Homo sapiens: one gene and its partners. The protein of the gene in region 3 purifies or fractionates together with the protein of the main gene of each other region. This does not show direct contact. Each region holds a gene or a part of one and is shown on either strand. Other genes may lie near its edges. The genes, in order: CTU1, CAMK2D, ACBD6, TULP3 and UGGT1.

Region 1 (3,520 bases), on a different chromosome or scaffold from region 3:
CTCAGAGCCTGAAGCCCAGTTCGAGACCCTTCTTCCCTGAGACCTCGAAGTCTGGGGTCCCAGCTTCTTCAGGGTTTCAGGTGAATGGGCCCCCGTCTCCTTCCCAACCCCACATGGAAGGCCAGGTAAGGTAACGGGTTTATTCACAGTGTCATTTACAGGCAGCCCCCACCCCGCGGCATCAGATCCCGGCGGGAGGCCCGAAGTCGCTAGAAGGTGGGGACGGCCTTGGAGGCGGGGGGCCGGGCCGGATCCCCGGGCGTCCCCGGCGTCGCCTCCTCGTCCAGACCCCGGCGGCCCTTGCCGATGGCCAGGCGGGGCCGGCCGCGGTTCAGGCCGTCCAGGAGCGCGCAGGCCTGGCAGAGCGCGCGGCTGGCCAGCGCCCCACAGCGGGAGCAGGCGCCGGGGCGCGGGGGCCGCGCGGCCGGGGCCAGCGCCAGGCGCTCGGCCGAGTGCACGAGGTCCAGCACCGCGGACGGCCGCGCCGCCTCCAGGCGCTTGAGCAGGTCCCGGGCGTGGCCGCGGAAGGCCTCGGGCGCGTAGACGCACTCCTCGGAGAAGTAGTCGAGGCGGCGGAAGTGCGCGTACAGCACCACCTCCTTCTGCGAGGCGAACTGCAGCGGGCGGCAGCGCGGCAGGGCGCCCCCCTCGCCGGGAGAGCCCAGGCCCCCGCCCCGGGCCAGCCGCCCCGCGTCGCCCCGTAGGAAGTTCATGAGCACGGTCTCCGCCATGTCGTCGGCGTTGTGACCTGGTGGGGAGAGAAGGGAGCGGGTGAGGTGGGGCGCGGAGGGCGCTGCTGGCCAGGGAGCCCCCCGGGGAACCAAGGGTCCACCAGGACCCAGAGAGAGACTGGGAGGAGAGACCCACGGAGACCCAGGGCACAGTGGGGCCGCCAGGACCCAGAGAGAGACGGCGACGGGGAGAGCAAGCCATGGAGACAGACCCCCAAACATGGTGTGACAGCCAGGATCCAGAGACAGGGAGGGGGAGAGAGAGCCATGGAGACCCCTAGGGCACTGTGGGCAACCAGGACGCAGAGAGAGACGGGGAGGGCAAGAGCGAGCCATGGAGACCCTCCGGGAACCGTGAAGCAGCCAGGTGCAGGCTGCAGGTGGACACAACAAAAAATCAAAGAGAAACATAAGCTCCCCTGGCGCAACTTGGGCGTGCCTTCATGTACCACCCGCCTACTGCATAGCGGACCTTATGCTAGTTGCCCTTTCATATAGGGAGTAAAAGTGCATTATGCTGCTAATAACCTTATCAGCCTCAGTTAAAACCGTAATTCAAACTGTACACAAAAATCAGAAGGCATTTAAGGCATTTAACCGAGATTCTCAGGAGAGCTGGAGGGGTAGGCAGGCTGCTGTCTCCCCCACCGCCTAGGGAATCCATGGCCTAATTCTGGGAACCTGTTAATATGTTTGGTTGTAGGACAAAGGGGAATTAAGGTTGCAAGTTGAATTGGGGCTGCTAATCAGCTGACTTTACAATAGGGACAGAATGGTGCGTTATCCAGGTGCGCTCAAGGTAATCACAAAGACCCTTAGAGGGGAGGAGGGAGGCAGAAAAGGGAGAGATAGGGCCATGGAGACCTTTGAACATAGTGGGCAGCCAGGACCCAGAGAGAGATGGGGAGGGGAAGCCTGAGCCATGGAGCCCCTCTGGCACCATAGGACAGCCAGGACCCAGAGACCGGGAGAGGGAGATGGGGCCATGGAGCCCCCTGGGCACTGTGGTGCAGCTAGGTGGTGGCTGGAGGTGGACACAGCAGGAATTGAGAGGGGAACACACACAAGCTCCCTGGGGAACTTGGGGATACCTCATTTGCCACCCGCCTACTGCATATGGGGGGTGTGAGGGCAGAGGCAAGGTTAGAGTGATGCAAACGGTGTAGGACTCAAACTGCCATCCTTGGCTTTGAAAATGGAGGAAGAGCCGGGCACAGTGGCTCATGCCTGTAATCCCAGCACTTTGGGAGGCTAAGGTGGGAGAATCACCTGAGGCCACGAGTTTGAGACCAGCCTGGCCAACATGGCAAAACCCCCATCTCTACTAAAAATACAAAAATTAGCAGGTCATGGTGGCAGGCACCTGTAACCCCAGCTGAGGCATGAGAATCTCTTGAACCTGGGAGGGAGAGGTTGCAGTGAGCCGAGATCACTCCACTGCACTCCAGCCTGGGCTCCACAGCAAGACTCTGTCTCAAAAGAAAAAAAAGAAAAGAAAATGGAGGAAGGGACCATCAGCCAGGAATGTGGGCAGCCTCCGGAAGCTGGAAAAGGCAAGGAAATGGACCCCCTTGCCCCAGAGCCTCCAGGAGAAAGGCAGCACTCTTGACACTTTGATTTTAGCCCGGTGAGACTTCCCAGACTTCTATCTACAGAACTACAAGATAATAAATCTGTGTTGTTTAAAGCTGTGAAATTTGAAGTAATTTGTTACAGCAGCCAGAGAAAACAACTGGTTCTTGACACAGAGCCTCTGACAACCCAGACTGTAGTTTTTTTATGGTTTTTTTTTTTCATTTTGTTTTATTGTGCGTGTGTGTGTGTGTGTGTGTGTGTGTTTGAGACAGGGTCTCACTTTAGTGCCCAGGCTGGAGGACAGTGGCACGATCTCAGCTCACTGCAACCTCTGTCTCCAGGGCTTAAGTGATCCCCCTGCCTCAGCCTCCAGAGTAGCTGGGACCACAGGTGTGTGCCACCATGCCCAGCTAATTTTTGTATTTCTATACAGACGCAGTTTCTCCATGTTGGCCAGGCTGGTCTTGAACTCCTCTGAGCTCAAGTGATCCACCTGCCTCGGCCTCCCAAAGCGGCTGGGATTACTAGCATGTGTCACCACCCCTGTAATCACTGCAGTGTTTTTGTGTTATCTTTGTTTAGAAGTAACAGTGAGAAATATTTACACACTGGTCACCATGAAATTGAAGCTAAACTTGTTCTGTGTCTTGTCAAGTTATACTTGAGTCTATATCAGTGGTTCTCAATCTGGGATGAGTCTGCCCTCCTTCCCTCCCCCAGAGACATTTGGCAATGGCTGGAGACATTTCTGTGTGTCAGGTTGGGGGTGGGGCACTACTATTAAATAGCATCTAGTGGGTAGAGGCCAGGGATACTGCTAAAATCCTATAACACAGAGGACAGCTCCCTAAAAACAAACTATCTGGCCCCAAATATCAATAGGGCTGAAGTTGAGAGGCCCTGGTCTATATGGTAAAAAACCTCCAAGAACTTGGCTCTAATTGTGTTTGTAGTAATGGTTACCTCCCAAAGACCTGCCAAGCCCTGTGACCTTGAGATTGGGCATGTTTGCTACTGCAAACGACATCTCGTTGAATGTTTATTGACTTAAAGTTGTAAACCACATTAATTAGGGGAGACTGGATTTGCTCCACACCTTGTCATTACAAACCCACTTAAGAGCTCCCAGTTTTGTAATAATTATTACAACAATTATTATACTACGCCTTTGAAAATGGAGTGTATAAACAAAGGGTAGAAATCACCTTGCAAGT
Region 2 (3,520 bases), on a different chromosome or scaffold from region 3:
AACTGGTCTATAGAGACTGTAGTTATATATAATGAATTACAAAAACAACATAAAACTGCAAATGCAATTGATACAAAAGTAATACTTCTAAAACAGTGATGTGGCCAAAGGAGGTGACCTAACTGCAAATGTGTGTTCAGTATGTGTGTGCAGGGGCACTGAGAAGATGTCTGTAGAAACACTACCAATGACTCATACATGTAGCTAAAAGAACCTTGGCAACCAAAGTGAATGGAGGTCAAGAATACCTTTGGAATGTACACAAAAAGCTAGGATAAAAAGGCGGCCAAATAGAAAATTCTACTGATATTATTTGAGATGACTAAAAGTTAAAAAGTTATTTTTATACTGTATCCTTGAATATAAATTGTTTTCCAGATAGGTTTTATGAATGTACCCAATGTGTATACATTTTATATTACTTTTTGACTGACAAATTTACAATTTGTTATGTTCCTATAACTAGTAACTCATTATTAGTTGTCATTACTGCAATGTGCTAGAATATGCTACATGTCTACAGTTCAAAATATATAAAAGAATATGTAGGAAAAATGACAAAAGTAACATATTGTTGAAATAATTATGTACTTATAAAAATATTTTTTACTCATAAATAAAATATTTTTGTGCTTTAGGATAGGCCTACTTCCTAAACTTATTAGTTATTTGAAGCACTTTTTTTTTCATATATATATGTGAAGCTCTGAGGTAGGATTTTCCATTTCTGGTTAAATCATACCTTTCACATCTTCATCCTCAATTGTTGTATTTGAACTCTCAGTTGACTCCTGATGAGAAGAAAACACATTTTTAGGTTGCACGCAATGAATAGCTTGATTTCCTCCTTAAAAATTGGCTAGTGACATACATATCATGCAAAATTCTTCAGCAGGCTATGTGCATATGCTGACATGCAAATGGACAAACACATTAAGTGGTTTTTAACAGAAATAAAATGTCTGATGCTGCAAACATTTCAAACGGAGTACTCTGGTTGCCTAATCTCCGAAGCTGTATAAATCCAGGTGATTTGTAGAAGCAGCGGAAGTATGCAGTTTATTTTAGAAACTGTGTAAGGATGTGTTTTGTGTTACAGTGCCCTATAAGGTTTGCTTTTTCTGTGTGTCTACAAGCAATTGAATATGTTAGCCGAATGAATTTGATACTTAAAATAGAAAAAATTTCTATTCCCAATTAATTAATCAATAAAGAGTACCTTCTTTGCGTCAGGCACTATGTTAAGGCCTGTATGCCTTACACCTTTATAGGGAGAGAAAGCATTTCACCGCATCATTTAATGAAGAAGCTAAGGGGGTTAAGCTGAGATATGCTGAAAGTACTTTTGAGAAGAATTTTCATGTTTGTCCTCAGCACAATGGAATTATAATGAATAATTTACTTTCAAGGACAATTAGACTTTTTTCATTCTTTTCAAAAATAGCAACTGGCTGTTATTGATAAGAAACCTACTCCATAATAAAAAGACAAAGCTCTTTCTTTGTAAAACTACAAATTAAGTGGAAGATTGTTAAGCACACTTAAAAGTACACTGTAACTGCCAGAATTAAGATACATTTCTTAAAATGGTGTGATAAATGTGCTCATTAATAATGTATGAGTAAAATATTTTCTAGCAAATAAATTTTGCAATATTCATAAGAAAGACATAGTTTTCTACTTGGAATGATTAAATGCTAGAGCCAAAAATAACTGGAAACAAACTTCCAATCAATAGCTCAGTAATGGAAAACAGATTCTGGAAAATAATGTAAACACCAGCCAGTATCATTTTAGAGATTCAGTATTCAAAAAAGTGATCAATTTATATAAATATCATATACAATATTTAAACCAAGGGAAAAACTAATTAAAGGTGTACCCAGAGTCTCCATACACACAAAACCAAAGAAAGGAATCTTCATGCATTTCTTAATGTGACCTAGTATTCAAATGTAAGCTGAAAATGAAGGTAAACCCATGCACTGTAAAATTAAACTAATTCATGTCAGCAAGAAATATCATGCAGCAACTCTTACAAATGATATAGCTAGAACTACTGAAGTGTCCATTCCAGCTGTTATGCTTGGCGTTTCATTGGCTAATGCTATTAAAAAAATTGTTCTCATATGTGATGGTCCTGACTACCTCAAGGCTTTTCGGGACCTAGACCATTTGCAGTGTCATGACTATAAAATAAATCTCATATTAAAGAACATAACACTTCATGTTTTTTACTTTAATGGTTTTAATATTGATCAATTAAATGTTAAACCAGAGAGGAAATGTGTTTTCTGAGTCTTAAGATAAAATGTGCTTTCTAAGTCTTAAACATCATTGATAAGAGTATGGAGAAGATGCATGACTATATCTAATATTTGAGAAAAGTTTAGTATTTTTTCTTCCCTTAGAGATATAATAATATATGAAAAGTAAGAAATTGGACACATGGAATACATTCAGAAAAGGTCTTTCATCCTATAGACATGTATGCTAGTGCTGTTATTTAGTTAACATGCTATACAAATAATTTACAATGTATAGGAAACATTTAGTCTTCTTTCAACCTAAGTAGTTAAACCCCTGTTACTGGAATATATATTACTCAACAACAAACATATTTCACAAAAAGTGAAACTCCTTGATTCACCTCAAATTCATGCCAAACAACAACAACAACAACAACAATAACAACAATAACAACATCATCACCAACAAGGAATTAAGAAACCAAAAACCAAAAAAAAAAAAAACACCACTCTGACAACAGAATAGAATAAAACTCAAAAGTAACACTAAACAAAAAAAAAAACCTATAAAGTCAAGTTGATATTTTTGAAGACAATGGAATATTGCCAGAAATTCTAAAATATCATGCACAATATATCTACAGTACAAAGCACAAAGTCATGGGGAAAAAAATGACCAGATGGAATTGCTTAAGACACACAGTCATCTTGACATAAAGACTTCATTCATGTTTAGCCTGACTTTTATTGACTCATGGTAACATTAGTTTCTCTTTCAAGATGTCATTCATTTTTATTTGCAAGAAGTATGTCCATAGTTCTAGATAAATTAGGCCCAAAAGGAAGTGTGGTAGAAAATGGTTAGAATTTTCTTTCCTATTTTTAGATAACGAATTAATTTTTTTGAATATTTGATGAGATGTATAGTCTTGTTAAAGCAAGATGATGTTGATTCTTTCTGAATACCTTGTTTCCATCAGGGTTGTGGATTACAGTAGTTTGGGGCTCCTGAGTGAGAACAAAATAGAGAAAGAAACAGTTCGCATTGGTAAGTACATTCTTTCTAGTGTGAAGGACAGAGCAGAGTGAGCCAGCTGACAAAATGAAATAGTGACAAGAGCTAAAGCGATGTTAACTGCTGTCAGAGTTGCAGCTGACAATATCTCTGATGAAAGATCTCCCTGGCGAGGCCATGAGATAGGAACCTCCCTACCCAGAAGCAGCATGCAAAAGACCTTATTCTTGATCAGCATTCAAACAAGGCTTTGATA
Region 3 (3,520 bases):
CAGACATTTTTTTTCCTAATCGTCCTCCCCGTGAAATTTTAAAAACACAGATACAATGCATAGCTATTAAATTTTGAAAGACCACAAACCACTGTAATCTAAGATTTTATAATTTCCTCAAACAAAATTTCACCCCTATTGAGGATATATGATCTACAGACTAATAGAGATTATTCTCATAAATTAACTGTGCTTATGGCATTTTGGTCGTACAGAAACTAATCATCACATAAAAAACAATATTCCCAAGGAAAATGCATCAAACTTCTTACTAAGATACAAGAAATCCACCTTCCCTTTCTGCTGTTATCTCATCTATAAGCTTCTAGTAACTGATCCTGGGGACTTAGTCTGGGACTTCAAAAGTAAGGGATGGTGAGGGCAGAAATAAGAATACTGGCCAGGCTTGGTGGCTCACGCCTGTAATCCCAGCACTTTGGGAGGCTGAGGCAGGTGGACCACCTGAGGTCAGGAGTTTGAGACCAGCCTGGCCAACATGGTGAAACCCCATCTCTACTAAAGATACAAAAATTAGCCAGGCGTGGTGGTGTGCGCCTGTAGTCCAGCTACTCTGGAGGCCGAGGCAGGAGAATTGCTTGAACCTGGGAGGCAGAGGTTGCAGTAAGCTGAGATGGCACCACCACACTCCAGCCTGGGCAACAGAGCAAAATTCTGTCTCAAAAAAAAAAAAAAAAAAAAAAAAAAAAAAACAACAACAGCAACTAAAGAATACTAATGAGTAAGTTAGGGACTTCCTACAATATAAATGGCAAAAGCAACATTTTAGTCCTGAGCTTCCTTTTGGGTCATCTACCCCCCTGCCCCCACAACAGGCTGCCAGGACAGGCCTTCTTCTTGGTTTTTCCCTGCCAATTCTTTCTAAATTCCAACCAGTGTTTCTCGATTTCCCTGATTTGCTGTCAAACAGAACTCAATCCCACATTTTTTCACTACCTTCCTGCTTCTATGATGAATATAATATCTTTCTGAGGTTTTCTAAATTTATTTTCACTGAATTCCTTAAGAATTACTTATACGCATCATAACACTTCATCCCTAAATAGATCAGCTTACACAAACTCAGGAAATTTATCATCAATTACTATTATACAATATAGAGGCTATACATTCAGATTTTCCTGATTGTCCCAATAATGTCCTTTATGGCTTTCTTCTCCCACACCAGGAACCAATCAAGATCCACACACAGCATTGAGTTTCATGTATCTTCAGCTTTTTTGTCTTCCACATTGTTGGTATTTTTTAAGAGTCCAACTGTTTTATAACATATCCCTCAATTTGAATTTGTCTAATTGTTTCCTTACCTACAGTGTTCTTGCCAAAAATGATTAATCATGATTAGAATTGGGTTAAATTATTTCAGCAGAGTAATATATAGGTGACATGCCCTTTTCAATGCATCACACTGGGGGCACGTGATGTTAGTCTGTCCCATCATCAATAAGATTCATGGTTTGGTAACGGCAGTAACTGTCAGGTTTCTCTCTCATAATTAAAAAGTAAATGGTGGGTCAGCCTGTAACCCACGGTTTTGCTCCCCAATAGTTTTTCACCTAGCATTTTAACAAAAATTTTCCTCAATAGTTTTTCTCTAACAGTTCCCCAATATTTTATCATCTAATATTTAATCATTCGTTGATGTTCTTGCATAAACTATTATTATGGTGGCTATAAAATCTAAATTTTTTAATTGCTAAAAACAATGGAGAAACAGGCAAAGCACAGAAAAAAATAAAGGTATAAAATTTCATAAATTATAACAAAAAACTCACTGTCAACGTTAACATCAGGTATTCTTTAGAACAGTAATAATATGTTGGCTGGTTATCATCAACCAAAAAACTTGTGCAAGAATATAATCAATGCACTGCTTCCTTCACTGAGACTGTCCTATACAAAAAAAAATCAGCTGAACTAAACAGCGTGGTTAGTGACATACGTGATTTATATCTGGGTTCAAGCTCTGTATCTCCTAACAGTTGGGTAACAAACAGTTGGCAGGCAGGAAATGTATCCAGGGGACCAGATTTTATGTGGGACTGCTCTAGAATGTAAAGTAAGAACCCATATTTTATCACTTCCTCTCTCTATAACCATATTTTATCTTTTTTCTTTTCTAACTCTACCTTCTAACCTTAATTCCAGGGCTGATGCTCCAAAGCCTTCCCTTCTATAACTAAGATTCCCAGTTGTATGCAATTTCTCTTCTTTCACTTAGACAAGGTAAGAGAAGATAAGGTCTCATAAATGACAAGGGGGAACTTCTGAATTATAAGTTAAAAAAGTTTGCAAAAGTATACTCTTTTTTTTATATATTCAGAGAAAAAGAGAAGTTAGTATCTGGTTTTGGCTTTTCACTGAATTTTTCCCTTCTTCCCAAGAGTACTATAAGCAGTTATTTACTGTGGCATGGGTGGGGCAAGGAACACAAGAGTAAGTAGCAAGAGACAGGGAGATAAAACTGGGACAAGGAAGATGGGTGAAAAATGGGGATTTATCCTGCTCTTCTGCCCTTCCCATCATTCTGGCCTTCTTCCAAAAATCCCTCCAGAGGGGAGAAGTGGTGATCCATTAGGGGTTGAATGACAGGAAAGGAAAATCTCAAGCAATAGCTCTCATGGTATTAAAATGTAAGGCATGTATGTCTGTTGTGAACCACTTATATTCCAACATGCTAGCATAAGAATCCTTCAGGAGACTTAGCTAAAAGTAGATTTCTTTAATCTCTCCCAATTGCCTGTCATTAGTACAATCTACAGCAGAGAGAGAGATTAATATAAAAATAATTCTTTAATCAGCTCACTGCTTTCTAATTCCTAAACACCTAAGCCATTTCCAACAACCTCATTAAAGATTCCAGGAATTTCTTACCATTTTTGCTTTCCTTCAAAATCAAAGAAGCTTGGTTTAGGAGTATTACAATTTCCAACTTTGACCTAAATGAGGGAAGGAAAATCAAGAACTTATTTTTCAAAGAAATGTCTGGGAAACTTTTCCTTTTCAAATGTATTATGTATATTCAGTAACCATAGGTTGGAAAATATTTGCATCTATATGGAATAGCAAAATTTAACATTCTTTGCCAAAGCAAACAAAAACAATCAAACAGAATCAAACATTACATACAGCCTACTTTGGCTTACTGCATAAAACAACTATTATCTAATACTGTAATACAGAAAAACTGTGATAAACGGTTGCACTTCGAAGTTAGTAGACTATATATAAGACAAGTTATCAATATAGATTAAATACTCTTTATTACCATGTATAAAGTAAAAGAATTTTTAATATGAAATTAATAAGGTTTAGAATTCATAATTTATCAGAATTCATAACACTGTTTCTTCATGCTGATTCTCATAACGCTATTAGCATTTTAACTCTCCAAAATTCCAGGGAAAACAGTGTACTACTTTTAAAGTACCCTATTATGAAATTCATCAATATAAATTTGGATGCCAAAAGCCATGCAAAAAATTTCATGGGTTCTCAAAAA
Region 4 (2,894 bases), on a different chromosome or scaffold from region 3:
ACAGGTTCTTGCTGTCACCCAGGCTGGAGAGCAGTGATGCAATCTCAGCTCACTGCAGCCTCGACCTCCTGGCTCAAGTGATGCTCCCACCTCAGCCTCCCGGGTAGCTGGGACTACAAGTGCCTGCCACCACGCCCAGCTAATTTTTCTATTTTTTGTAGAGATGGGGTTTCACACCATGTTGCCCAGGCTGGTCTCAAGCGATCTGCCCACCTCGGCCTCCCAAAGTGCTGGGATTACAGACGTGAGCCATGGTGCCCAGCCAACTTCTCTGATTTGCTATAGCATCTCTCTCACACTCCTCTCCCCTCCTCAACACAGTGATTTACAAGTTTTCTCTAAAACTGTAGTTTCATCTTTCCAAAGAAATCCTGTCTCTCCTCCATGATTATCTGCTGACTGTCACTTCCTATCATGTACAGGGAATGTGCATTCCCATCCTGTAAGAGCATCTGTCCTCCTCTTCCCACCCAACCCCTCCTGGAGGCTTACGGTCATTTTTGTGGACTATCTGGAAGTTCTTCACAGACGCCTGAGTGACCCGGCCACGGAAGTTGAGGACATAGGACTGAGTGTCACTGTTCCAGACGGGGGCCTTGTTGTGCAGCTCAACCAGATTTTCCATAGTTCTGTTCTGCCACCTTGAGAGCAAACTGTCATGGTTCTGTCCAAAGGGAAAATCATTACTTTGTACTGAGAACTCCAACTCTACGAGGTAGAAGGTAGAGTAGGAGAATACTTTCTCCATTTCAGAAAGGGTAAACCAGAAGCGAAGAATGAAAGCCAACAATGAAGACAGGTTTTTTTTAAAATTATTCTACATCATCCAGCATTTCTCTTTGTAGAAAAAATGGTTTCAAGGCAATGACTCTGCAACTGCTCTTATCCTGAGGTTTTGGAGGGGCAGCTTTCCTAAAGAAGTGTATGGAGCTATCTCCAGTGTGGGGCTCTGGAAGCTCAATCTTTTTTTTTTTTTTTGTATTAATCTCTGTGTATTGTACTACTGTCTTTTAGAGTCTTTCACTGATTTAAATACATTCTTACTCACGTTTTGTGGCTGATAGGGGATCTGCTTATGATTCAGTGTCATTCCAGGAATGATCACAGACATTTTCCTAGGACCTTTAAATCCAAGTACGTTTGTTTCCTGGAAGATAGGAAAACAAAGCAGAACTTGGAAACAGGAAAAAAATAGAGACCACATTCTTTTATAACATGAGACTTTCTTGGGAATGTAAGATGCTGACAATATCAGCTGTATCAGCCGGGGCAGTGGATCACGCCTATAATCCCAGCACTTTGGGAGGCCGAGGTGGGCAGATAACCTGAGGTCAGGAGTTTGAGACCAGCCTGGCCAACATGGTGAAACCCTGTCTCTACTAAAAATACAAAAATTAGCCAGGCGTGGTGGCAGGCGCCTGTAATCCCAGCTACTCGGGAGGCTGAGGCAGGAGAATTGCTTGAACCCAGGAGGCAGAGGCTGCAGTGAGCCGAGATCACGCCGTTGCACTCCAGCCTGGGCGACAAGAGTGAGACTCTGCCTCAGAAAAAAAAAAAAAAAAAAAAAAAAAAAAAAATCAGGTGTACCAAAAATAATTTTATTACTTTGCTGTAAACAGAATCAAAAACAGGAAAGTAATATTATATCTCTTTATACTTCTCTTTTTTTTTTTGAGACAGAGTCACGCTCTGTCGCCAGGCTGGAGTGCAGTGGCACAATCTCAGCTCACTGCAACCTCCAATCTCCACCTCCTGGGTTCAAGCGATTCCTGTGCCTCAGCCTGGGACTACAGGCGCATGCCACCACGCCTGGCTAATTATTTTTTGTATTTTTAGTAGAGACGGGGTTTCACCAAGTTGGCTAGGATGGTCTCGATCTCCTGACCTCGTGATCTGCCTGCCTCAGCCTCCCAAAGTGCTGGGATTACAGGCGTGAGCCACTGCACCTGGCCTATACCTTCTTTAAACACCTACATTTAAAACAGAATCTCTTGGCTTGAGAGTTTACTCTTAACTATTTTTTTTTTGGGACCAGAGTTTCACTCTTGTTGCCCAGGCTGGAGTATAATGGCACAATCTCAGCTCACCACAACCTCCGCCTCCCGGGTTCAAGCAATTTTCCTGCCTCAGCCTGAGTAGCTGGGATTATAGGCATGCGCCACCACACCCGGCTAATTTTGTATTTTTTTTTTTTTTTTAGTCGAGACGGGGTTTCTCCATGTTGGTCTCGAATTCCCGACCTCAGGTGATCCGCCCATCTTGGCCTCCCAAGGTGCTGTGACTACAGGAGTGAGCCACCACGCCCGGCCTCTTACTCTTGAGTCTTAAATGTGATTTGAGATAACTGTGAACAAACTGTTCAACTTTGTCAGCACCAACACATATTTATTTCCCAGTGAGGGCATAGCACTATATTACATACAGTGAAAATTAGTTGTGGTTAAATAAGGCCTGCACTAGGTATTAAAAATGCCTGTCAAGCCAAGCAGATTATTCTTATTTTATTTTGAGATGGCGTCTTGCTCTGTCACCCAGGCTGGAGTGCAGTGGCACAATCTTGGCTCATTGCAACCTCTGCCTCCTGGGTTCAAGCGATTCTCCTGCCTCAGCCTCCCGAGTAGCTGGGATTACAGGTGCCTGCCACCACGCCTGGCTAATTTTTTTTGTATTTTTAGTAGAGACGGGTTTTTGCCATGTTGGCCAGGCTGGTCTCCACCTCCTGACTTCAGGTGATCCACCGGCCTCGGCCTCCCAAAGTGCTGGGATTACAGGCGTGAGCCACCACGCCTGGCCGATTATTATTATTTTTTAAACAGGGTCTCATGCTGTCGCCCAGGCTAGAGTGCATGGTGTGATCACGGCTCACTGCAGCCTCGACCCTCCTAAGACTCAGG
Region 5 (3,520 bases), on a different chromosome or scaffold from region 3:
AAAAAAAGAGAGAAACAAATACTGTTGGGTGATACCATTTTTGAACTCAAATTATTCCCCAAAATAATTCTGCAAAAACAACGCCTGACACACTACAGAAGATAAACAAATATGTGATAGACAGTATGAACAAAAGAATAACAGAAATAATACAACAGAATCAGATCCATAGTAGCTCCATAAATTAGAAGATACCAGGTATCACACAAATTTTAAAGTAAGTAGAGCCGGGCACTGTGGCTCGTGATTGTAATCCCGGCACTTTGGGAGGCCAAAGCGGGTGGATCACTTGAGGTCAGGAGTTTGAGACCAGCCTGGCCAACATGGTGAAACCCTGTCTCTACTGAAAATACAAAAATTAGCCAGGAGTGGTGGTGCGTGCCTGTAATCCTAGTTACTCAGGAGGCTGAGGCAGGAGGATCACTTGAACCCGGGAGGTGGAGGTTGCAGTGAGTGCAACCCAGAGCATGCCACTGCACTCCAGCCTGGGAAACAGAGTGAGATTCTGTCTCAAAACAAACAAACAAACAAAAAAGTTTACCTTTTATTATTCCATTGAGATAGAGGAGAAGAAAATGAGCAAATTAAACTAGTGTTTATGGATACATGCTTAAACAGTAAATCTATAAAGAAACAAAAATGATTACCATAAAAGTCGTGATGCTAGACACTTTTGTTAGGGAGGAAGGATGGCTTCTGGGATGCTGATAATGTTCTAGTTCTTGAACTAGGTTGTGGTATCTGGGTATTTGCTTCATAATAATTCCTGGATGTATGTGAATATGTATGTATGTTTTTTGTATACTTTTCTTTATGGATGCTACATATCACAATAAAGGTTTAAAAACATTTAAGTAGACTTAAGCAAAATAAAATGCTTAAAATATGTGAAATATGTATCCAAAACCCTTAAACTACAATCTCACCTCTGAAAAATGCTTAACATTAACAAACAGTAATTTAGCTAGCCTTGAAACACATCATGGTTTCTGACATAGAAAAAGGGGAAGCTGTGATACTATACTGTGATTCTATACTACGAATCCTGAGCTATTTAGTTCCTACAGCAGAAAAACAAACTGACCCTAGTAGGTAGAGAAACAAACCTATGAGATTAGTTTGAGTACAAAATACAAAGATATGCTAATGGTTCAGAGAGGCAGCATTCTCCTTCCATCTCTCTCCCCAGCCAGCATCAAATCTATGACATTTTTCACGCTGATATGTCTTGAGGGCAGATAAAAATCTCTCTCTCTCTCTCTCTCTCTCACACACACACACACACACACACACACACCATGAAAAAACAAGACGCCATCCTGTGAGGAGAGGACTGAAGACACAAGTAATACTTCATTTTCTGATGCAACACTGTATACCCGTCACTCACAGTTAACCATAAAAAATGGACACTTACTTGATCAAGATTTGAAAGGCTGTTAGGGTCCTGACTCAGACCTTGGTACTGTCCCCTGAGTCTGTCACCAGCAGCTATTTTCCTAAACTTCTTCAGATCCACAACATATAGTGCACTGAATAAAGAAGACCCGCTTGTTACAACCAACCATGGATTACGACAGGAAAACTAAACCCAATGAATAATGGAACAGGCCACTAGCCAAATATTCTGGCTTTTCTTTGAAAAGGTATGCTACAGCCCTACAGTGGAGTTAAAGTGTGCTACTTTAAAGATCTCTAAGAAAGTCACTGCAAAATCTATACTGTGCTATGCTTTTGTTACTGTTCTGTATTTGCCATCCGAAAGAAATAATCTCAGACCAAAGATTTCTAGCATATGCGGCAGTAACAAAAGCCATAGTAACTGATAAACAACCATTATTCAATGATATCCTGATGATGTCTTCAATGTTACAGGGGGGGGAAAACCCCAGAGTGTTACAGTCCTTACAGTTCTTTTGGACCAGGAATGTAAAGAATGAAGCCACCATCACTAAACCCCAGCAGTGATCTCTGCATGTGCCGCTTCCTACACGTTCCTCTTCCCTGCACATCTTCAAATCACACTTCTCGCAGAGAAGAGAATGGGGTGCTCATTAGAAATGTAACAACACACACACTGTTCGACCTAAAAGGTCTACGTCTAGGAATTTATCTCACAAATATATGAGATATGAAAAATTATTTAGTAGATTATTCATTGCAACATTGTAGGTCACAGGGAAAACTATAAATAACACTCACACACTGGAATAATATGCAGCTATGAAAAGGAATCAGGTCTCTCTCTATTCACTGAGAAGATGTATATGACATTAAGTAAAAAAAAAAAAAAAAAAGCCAAGTTACAAAATGTATAAATAGGTAGCATATTTTGTGTAAAAAAAAAAAGAATACACATTCACAGCTGTTTCTGTAAGAATTAAGAAAATCTGGAAGGATAGACAGTCAATAAGTTGGGAGGTTATCTGCTGTGAGAACAGGAACTGAGTAGGAAAGAGAGAGACAGGATTAGGAAGTTTTTTTTACACTGTATTTTTTTTTTTTTTTGAGATGGAATCTCACTCTGTCATCCAGGCTGGAGTGCAGCGGCGTGATCTCAGCTCACTGCAACCTCCGCCTCCTGGGTTCAAGCAATTCTCCTGCCTTAGCCTCCCGAGTAGCTGGGATTACAGGCGCCCACCACCATGCCCAGCTAATTTTTGTATTTTTAGTAGAGACGGGGTTTCGCCATGTTGGCCAGGCTGGTCTTGAAATCCTGACCTCAGGTGATCCACCTGCCTTGGCATCCCAAAGTGCTGGGATTAAGGCATGAGCCACTGCACCCAGCCACTGTGTATTTTTTATCATTTTTATTTTTCAACCATACCAATGTATTACCTATTCACAATTTTAACCACACAAAATCAATTTTAAGGAAAACCCCGTAACAGTGTTAGGAGTGCTTCTTTTCAGTACCTGATATGATACTTTCGCCCGGCTAAATGACTGGCCCAGTACCCTGACTTCCAGAACCTGTAGCCGTCCATTTCTCTTCGGCTGTCACAGAAAGGAGTGTAACCATAAGGAGCACCATCCAAATTGAAATCTCTTAACTCTTTCAGATCTGTTCGTACAATCTGGAGAATATAAAAAGTCATTTGTTAAGCAACCATGCAGACAGCTCTAATGCGGTTTCCTTCAGATACAGAGTGGCTCGCTTAAGGCAGCATGGAAGGCTGCTCCGTGGTTAGTGGCACAGGCACTAGGGGCAGATGCACTTTGATTGCTCCACTTATTACCTGGTTGACTCACTAACATGTAAGACACTTCTTAGCAAGGTGTGTGGGAGTAGGAATAAAACAAATTTCAACTGCTTAGCCTTTCTGTGCCTCAGTTTCTTCATCTGTAAAATGGAGATAATGATAATGACAGTACCTATCTCACAGGGTTGCTGGGAGGATTATGTAAGTTAACATATGGATGGACAGATGTAGAATAATGCCTTGCCCATCGTAAGTACTCAACAAGGATTAAATGTGGCTATGTTACAATCAGGAAGGCACACTTCAGGCTAAGCCAG

Evidence for each region.
Region 1: the proteins of ACBD6 (region 3) and CTU1 purify together in Homo sapiens (affinity purification with mass spectrometry; one large-scale study listed by BioGRID and IntAct). This does not show direct contact.
Region 2: the proteins of ACBD6 (region 3) and CAMK2D purify together in Homo sapiens (pull-down; one study listed by IntAct). This does not show direct contact.
Region 4: the proteins of ACBD6 (region 3) and TULP3 purify together in Homo sapiens (affinity purification with mass spectrometry; one large-scale study listed by BioGRID and IntAct). This does not show direct contact.
Region 5: the proteins of ACBD6 (region 3) and UGGT1 purify together in Homo sapiens (pull-down; one study listed by IntAct). This does not show direct contact.

What each region holds. Positions count from the first base shown.
Region 1 is NC_000019.10:51,098,392-51,101,911, forward strand, and holds part of CTU1 (cytoplasmic tRNA 2-thiolation protein 1), read right to left. Parts: intron 749-3,520; coding exon 210-748; 3' UTR 1-209.
Region 2 is NC_000004.12:113,499,721-113,503,240, forward strand, and holds part of CAMK2D (calcium/calmodulin-dependent protein kinase type II subunit delta), read right to left. Parts: intron 3,258-3,520; coding exon 3,216-3,257; intron 792-3,215; coding exon 743-791; intron 1-742. UniProt on the Homo sapiens protein: Calcium/calmodulin-dependent protein kinase involved in the regulation of Ca(2+) homeostatis and excitation-contraction coupling (ECC) in heart by targeting ion channels, transporters and accessory proteins involved in Ca(2+) influx into the myocyte, Ca(2+) release from the sarcoplasmic reticulum (SR), SR Ca(2+) uptake and Na(+) and K(+) channel transport.
Region 3 is NC_000001.11:180,492,569-180,496,088, forward strand, and holds part of ACBD6 (acyl-CoA-binding domain-containing protein 6), read right to left. Parts: intron 2,958-3,520; coding exon 2,893-2,957; intron 1-2,892. UniProt on the Homo sapiens protein: Binds long-chain acyl-coenzyme A molecules with a strong preference for unsaturated C18:1-CoA, lower affinity for unsaturated C20:4-CoA, and very weak affinity for saturated C16:0-CoA. Does not bind fatty acids. Plays a role in protein N-myristoylation.
Region 4 is NC_000012.12:2,935,884-2,938,777, reverse strand, and holds part of TULP3 (tubby-related protein 3), read right to left. Parts: intron 1,148-2,894; coding exon 1,049-1,147; intron 665-1,048; coding exon 493-664; intron 1-492. UniProt on the Homo sapiens protein: Negative regulator of the Shh signaling transduction pathway: recruited to primary cilia via association with the IFT complex A (IFT-A) and is required for recruitment of G protein-coupled receptor GPR161 to cilia, a promoter of PKA-dependent basal repression machinery in Shh signaling.
Region 5 is NC_000002.12:128,181,687-128,185,206, reverse strand, and holds part of UGGT1 (UDP-glucose:glycoprotein glucosyltransferase 1 precursor), read right to left. Parts: intron 3,078-3,520; coding exon 2,917-3,077; intron 1,533-2,916; coding exon 1,418-1,532; intron 1-1,417. UniProt on the Homo sapiens protein: Recognizes glycoproteins with minor folding defects. Reglucosylates single N-glycans near the misfolded part of the protein, thus providing quality control for protein folding in the endoplasmic reticulum.